2 linked regions of the Homo sapiens genome follow. The protein of the gene in region 1 purifies or fractionates together with the protein of each later gene. This does not show direct contact. Each region holds a gene or a part of one and is shown on either strand. Other genes may lie near its edges.

Evidence for each region.
Region 2: the proteins of ZNF202 (region 1) and ZMYM2 purify together in Homo sapiens (co-immunoprecipitation; 3 studies listed by BioGRID and IntAct, with this or other methods). This does not show direct contact.

Annotation. Positions count from the first base shown.
Region 1 is NC_000011.10:123,734,945-123,738,976, forward strand, and holds part of ZNF202 (zinc finger protein 202), read right to left. Parts: intron 1-4,032. UniProt on the Homo sapiens protein: Transcriptional repressor that binds to elements found predominantly in genes that participate in lipid metabolism.
Region 2 is NC_000013.11:19,965,227-19,968,726, reverse strand, and holds part of ZMYM2 (zinc finger MYM-type protein 2), read right to left. Parts: coding exon of another isoform or gene 3,446-3,500; intron 439-3,445; exon of another isoform or gene 325-438; intron 1-324. UniProt on the Homo sapiens protein: Involved in the negative regulation of transcription.

The sequences.
Region 1 (4,032 bases):
ACTCATCACAAGGAATCTTCAGGTTGCACCGGGAATAATCCAAATGCAAGTCACACAACACTTGGCATTTGAAAAAAAAAAAATCATTTTCCATTGAGGATTTAAATCAATTTTAATAAGCGCAAAATCAGACATCAAATAAATGGAACTACAATACTAATTATTTATCCAGACAAAGCTTTCCAAACCCCACCCCAACTCCTACCCCTGGAAGACAGAATTAATACATAGGGTCTTTTGGCTTAATAAAAGGACTTCTAGTATCTTAAAAGTTTGAGAACCGACGTCCAGTGAAGTAGACTTGGAATCCTCATTGTTTTCACGCAGCACTAGGTACAAGAGATTCCACAGTATGGATCCTACAACGTATGCATTGACAGAAGAGTTCCTGCTCTCTCAAAGGGCTTTGCTCTCCAAAGAAAAAAGAACATGTAACAGTGCCACACCAAACTTGCCATTTAAAAATGCCCTTCAGAAATCACAAGCTGAGATTTCTGGTGCTTGTTTTGCATTTACTTTGGCAGCCTAGGAAGATGAAGGAAAACAGATCAGCAATAGAAGGAATGAAGGAAGGAGTCTTTGTGGGGTAAGAGATGGGAAATGAATAGGAGGTACAGCAGTGCTGTGCACAGCACCAAACTGGGTATCCAAAGACATATGCCCCGGCCCCAGATCCCCAAGAAACTGGAGCTTCCCTGAGGGTTTCGTGAAGTAACGTACCCAAGAGCCCTTGTAAAGGATAAAGCCCTCTGCAGATAACCAGTCTCCTAACTCAGTGATTATCTGAGATATGAGAGCTTTATGAACTAAAATGTGTTGTGCAAATGTCAAGATTTAATATTAGAGGCAGAAAACAGATGTTGTGTTTTTATTCTATAATTAATGGGATGTGCTATGCCATAAGTATACCTTGCAATTTGTTGCCTTTGCTATTCTAATACCTTTCTTCAATGTCTGTCCTTGGAAGAGTTCCAGAGTAAGACAAAAACTATAGAGAGAATACAATAGAGAGAATATGAAACCAGGCCAGGATTAAGTAAGAGACTTGGTTCCAGAAGACACTAAAACAGTATCTGCAAAGATACAACCTAGTGTCTTGAGTGTTCCTAGGATGCATAGGATTGGAGAGGAGCTATCAAGGTAAGACCTCTGTACAATCCTCAGGCCAGCTGTCTCTGCCCCTTATCTGAAGGTGTCACGTGGCAGTGAAGACCCAAGCTCAATTCTCTTACAAGAACAGAAAACCACAGGCAATGAAACAATATCTAGTTCTCTACCTTAAAACGCTACTAGCTAGGGTGATCTTTCTGGACCCTAAATGACAAAGTCTGTAGTCATATACCATCAACCTAAAGGAGAGACAGTGATCTGCCTATGTACTGGCAAATAATCTTCAGAAGAAAATAGTGATTAGAACTGAAATTATTATATTTAGCAGATATTTATATCCCTTCCAGTCCCCATTCTTATTTTATACCTTAATGCAGGCCTATAGTTTGGTAATTTTAATACAACTACTTGCTGGGGCTAACCAGGGCCTGTCAACAGCTCCTCTCAGTGTTCTAGAATAGAAATTGGCTAATAAAAACTGTTAACCGCTCTTTTCCAATGCTGCTGCTGTTCTTTAAAACGAAAGATTAGCCCAGTACAATCCTTCTAATGGACATATTCTTTTATTCTTGATTGTCCTATATACAAGCGCTTACCTAAGCTTTCCACATAATGGTTAGTGGCCTTGGCACGCTGGGTTTGAATCCCTGACCTCGAATCCCTGACCTCGCTTATTAGCCTTGTAACACAATTTCCCTAAGCCTCAGTCTTATCCTCAAAAATGTGGCTAATACTACTTATCTCATGTGGTTGTTTTAAGGAGTAAATGAAATAACCTATAGAAACCCTTCAGTATAGAGTCTGGCATAGGGTAGGTGCTCAATATATTTTATTCATTTTCCTTCAAGCTATTTGAAATCGTTTTGGGAAGAAGGCAAGATTTAAATGATAAACAAGCAAACAGTTCTCTATTGCATCATAATTACAAAAAAACAGATGGCATAAGGAAAATCTTGGTCGGTCTATTGTTATATCAAAGAAACCATGCTAAACCAAAAAAAAAATCCTTGCTTTGGAGGCACTTATGAAGTAGGATTAAATGAAAGTGTTGGAATACAGATGAGAAGGAACCTTAGACACAGGTTCTCCCACCGAAGACCATATCAGCAATGCTTCTAATTACCAATATATCAAAGTCCTCTCCACTCCCTGTAACTGGCAGGAGACAATCTGAGGCAAACTCAGTGTACCAAGAAGTCCTGTGAAAACTTAACCTAGACAGCACAATGAATGAAAGGGAATGAATTCCCTGGCTTTTGGCCTTCTAACACGTGACCAGTATGCTTCAAAACATGTTTAAAACTGTTTCTGTAAAATATTTTTGCCACCTAAGTTTCCCCCCCGCCCCTTCATAAAAGTGATATTTGAGTAGTGAGGGGAGAAATGGCTCAAAATTTGTTACAAGAGGTTCCAAAGAAAGACAATAAGGTATAGAGAAAGGGAAGACAGGAAGAAAGAGAAAGAGGTCAAGTATGTAGTGGATAGTACAGGGAAGTCACAAGTATCTTCTGTCTGGAAATGCTGCAGATTTTGTGGTTAGCCTCAAGATATTAGGTGGGAATAAACATGTCATTGAGAGTAAATGTAAACACAAAAATGAAAAATAAAAATTGTAACAATTCACTTTATTCTAAACTGTTTTTGATGGTTATATATGGCAGGCCTAGGAGGCAATGTTAGACAGTAGATAGTTGCCTTCGGCGGAGGGTGACCTGTGTTCTGTCCACTGCTCTACATTGTAAAGAGGTGTCATCTTGGACAAGTCACGGCAGCTCATGTTGAGTCTTGGGATGATTCTTTATCTAAAGGTAGAGAACTGAACCAGCTTTTTGATGGTGATGAGGAGGGGTTTTGAGAGGAACAAGGATATACAGCATCTCTATTGAATATTTGGGCCATAATGTAACAGCCTAGGATGCTGAGATTTACTCAAGAGCTGAGGACGGCTAGGGGCCAAACACAGATTTTTAAGTTTTGAGATAGGGTTTACTCTGTTGCTAAGACTGGAGTGCAGTGGCAAGATCACAACTCACTGCAATCTCTGCCTCCCAGGTTCAGGCCATCCTCCCACCCCAGCCTCCTAAGTATCTGGGACTACAGCACATGCCACCATGCCCAGCTAATGTTTAAATTTTTTATAGAGAAGGGGTCTTGCCATGTTGCCCAGGCTGGTCTCAAATACCTGGGCTCAAGTGATCTGCCAGCTTTGGCCTCCCAAAGTGTTAGGATTACAGGTGTGAGCCACTGCACCCAGCCTCAAATACAGATTTTTAAGAGGCCAGATTTATACACCTGGCCATCATGGTCATGTTGGTTAACCTCCATCATGAAGCTAGGCTTTTTAACCTTCAGGAAAACTACCCCAGAGCAGTTAATGGCCTAAATAAAGGAGGTCAAGCTATATGTCTCAGTTTAAAACAGAACATGACAAATTAACCTGAAGCAGGAAAAGGAGGGGACATCAAACCTGACACCCATCCTGATAAGAGTAACTGCTCTCATTTGACAGCCAGAGTTAAACTAGATGTATGCAATCTCTACAACAAACATAGTCAATGCCAATCAGATAGTCAGAGGAACCATCATTTAATGGGAAATAACGCAATAACATATATAACAGAGCTGACCGGAGGTGTTGCTATAGATAATTCATAACAGCAGTAAATTCAAAAGTCATTTACTATGTTTTTAGCTTTGTCATTAACACAGCCTGTGTGGATACTCCCTGTTTCACGTCTAGATGACTTCCTCCTGGCTTTGCTCAAGGGTCCTTTAGCATTTGAGGAGATGATAAGGGATGGGATCCCCGCCTGTTGAACCAGAGGAATCTGAGGAGTACCAGGTTTCCACTGAAGACTAAATCATGATCCAGAGAAGGAATCTCAGAAGTCATTCTTGTCGTGGGCATGGCTTAACGTCTGT
Region 2 (3,500 bases), on another chromosome or scaffold:
TTTAGGAAAAATTAATCTGGCTACAATGGAGTCAAGAATAGGAAGAAACTGCCTTGTAAATAATTCCGTTTTCTAACAGACTAAGGTGAAAGTTAAAAGCATAGTAAGAGCTAAAGATGACAGTAAAGGACACTTAAAGGTCTCAACATTAGTCTAGTGAGGGGAGGTCTGGTGCGGTGGCTCACGCCTGTAATCCCAGCACTTTGGGAGGCCAAGGTGGGCAGATCACCTGAGGTCAGGAGTTCGAGACCAGCCTAGCTAACATGGTTAAACCCCATTTCTACTAAAAATACAAAAAAATTAGCCAGGGACAGTGGCGCGCACCTGTAATCCCAGTGCACCTGTAGTCCCAGCTACTCGGGAGGTTGAGGCAGGAGAATCGCTTGAACCCGGGAGGCGGAGGTTGCAGTGGACCGAGATCACACCATTGCGCTCCAGCTTGAGCAAGAAGAGCAAAACTCTGGCTCAAAAAAAGGAAAGTCTAGCGAGGGGAAGTGAAGGAGGTGGTCATAACTATGAGACCACATTAAGCCCCAGAAGCAAAAATTTTAAATGTTACAGAATTAAGACAAAAAGAAGCAGTTAAAAGATTTGGCAATTAGGTCACTAGCGACCTCAGAAGAGATTTGTTATAGTGTTGACAGTGCAGATCAGACAGTGGATTTCTTTCTAAAAGTATAGGGAAAAGAAGAAATCGTTAGAAAAAGATGCAGAGATTCTGGAGGATAAAGCATTTTTATCTCGATGGAGGATAAAGCACTGCAGACTAATGAAAAAGCCAGAAGAGGGAAGTCGGTGAAGAGAAACATAGAAATTCTTCTAGTCATTACCAGATAAGCACACACTAAGTTTACCATACCAGGTGGTGGCAGCAAATTCATTATGTTTGGTCCATATAAACAGACAGTTTAAGAATTGCAGCTGCTATTAACTGAGCACCTACTATTGGCCAGCTGCATACCCTGTATTATTTTTAGTCCTCACCTCAACAATCTCAGGAAACCAGGCATTACCATACTCATTTGTTAACTGACTGAACTACAGCTCAGATGTTACATGACTTGCCTGATATCGCAAACTGGTAAATACTGGAGCAAAATTGTTTTTAATAGTTATATTAAAGCATAATGTACGTGTAGTAAAATTTACTTATTTTAAGTGAAAGATTTGATAAATGTATTAAATGTATATACTTCTGCAACAATCACCACAATCCAGTTTTATATAACACTCTATCACCCCAAAACTCCCTTCATGAGCAGGGCAGATTTAAGCCTGAATCTGTATGACTCCAACTCATGTCATGCTACAATGAGAAAAATGGCTTTTTTTGGCAGAAAATCTGCAAAATTAAGTCGTTACCCTTCCAATCTTCTCTTAGTACTCACTAGTTCCCTTTCCATGTGAGGCCCTCATATATCTCTAGAACCATACTCACATATCATGATCTCACCAAATTCACGAGTTTACTGTAATTTGGAAACATACCCCCTAAAAGGACAGTATAATCAGACTTTTATATAGGATGCTATTACAGATACTGTGCTCTTTTTTTAAAAAAAGCAAAAGGAGTTAGGAAAAGGAAAGACAAATGAACAGGTAAGTCCAGGAGGAAGACTGAATGAAAACAGAAGAGTAAGGTCCTTGAAAAAGGAAAATGTGATATACAAATAAAGAAAACATGAAATAACAGAAGTCAGGAGTCTGTGTCATGGAAGAGAGACTAACTGGAACAGAAGCTTCTCTTCCATAAGCAATGTAAAACCGTACAGAGACATAGGATGGAATGACTTCCTAGGCAGGAGTTAACACTTATTTGGCTAAGAAACAGGACTATACAATAATAAGACAGACAAAAATCAAAATAAAGTGAGACAATATTCATAGTAAAGTTATAAAGCTAAAACTTGTTAAATTTTATAATCATGATTTTCCTATAACTAATTAAAACAAGTGCAAATTTTTCTTTAGGTAAAAAAACAAGCAGGCTGGGCGCGGTGGCTCACGACCATAATCCCAGCACTTTGGGAGGCCAAGGCAGGCAGATCACCTGAGGTCAGGAGTTCAAGACCAGGCTGACCAACATGGAGAAACCCCGTCTATACTAAAAATACAAAATCAGCCCGGCGTGGTGGCACATGCCTGTAATCCCAGCTACGCAGGAGAAACGCTTGAAACCAGGAGGTAGGGGCTGCGGTGAGCCCTGATCACACCATTGCACTCCAACCTAGGCAACAAGAGCAAAACTCTGTATCCAAAAAAAAAAAAAGAATTATAGACATATAAGAATTCAGGCCTGGTGCAGTGGTTCACATCTGTAATCCCAGCACTTTGGGAGGCTTAGGCAGGTAGATAACCTGAGGTCGGGAGTTCAAGACCAGCCTCACCAACATGTAGAAACCCCATCTCTACTAAAAATACAAAATTAGCCAGGCGTGGCGGCTCATGCCTGCAATCCAAGCTACTCAGGAGGCTGAGGCAGGAGAATCACTTGAACCCGGGAGGCGGAGGTTGCGTTGAGCCGAGATTGCACCATTGCACTCCAGCCTGGGCAACAAGAGAGAAACTCTGTCTCAAAACAAAACAAAACAAAACAAAAACAAAAAAAAAAACAAGCAAATATAGAATTATAAATATATAAGAATTCAGGCCTGGTGCGGTGGCTCACACCTGTAATCCCAGCACTTTGGGAGGCCCAGGCAGGTGGATCACCTGAGTTCAGGAGTTCAAAACCAGCTGGCCAACACGGTGAAACCCTGTCTCTATTAAAAATACAAAAATTAGCCAGGTGTGGTGGTGCACACTTGTAATCCCAGCTACACAGGAGGCTGAGGCAGGAGAATTGCTTCAAGTTGAACCCAGGAGGCGGAGGTTGCAGTGAGCTGAGATCATGCCATTGCACTCTGGTCTAGGCAACACAGCAAGACTCCGTCTCAAAAAAAAAAAAAAAAAAAAGAATTCAGATACCATATCAGGGCCAGAAATAATTAAAATGATTAAAATAAGATATGACAAGCCTGGAACGAAAAAAAGTACAAATCTAAACAGGAGGATAAAATAAAATTTTCATTTAACTTATATTTTCACTTCCACCCAAACCTTTCCTTAGTTCTATAGAACTAGAAACACAATTCACTAAGTCTAGATGAAATGCTCTTCCAAGCAGAGCCAAAGAAACTGCTAGCCCATAATTAACAGAACACATATTTTATGACTATCTAATATATAACAGGTGTTGTAATATCCAATTTGTTAAATCAGTCCCCTGATTATTACCCTGAACACTCTGTCTAGTCCAACTTGATATTCCAAGAAACACTATTCTTCCTAGGAAAAAGACATACCTCTTTGAAATGAATGATTATAAAACTGTTCCAGTATTAGAAGAGAAGTCATTTTTTAATGTTAAGTAACAAAACCCAAAAATTTAGTTGTCAATTCTTACACTAGTAAGTCCAGAGATGGTATCCAGGTGACTACGGCAGAGAGTAATATACACA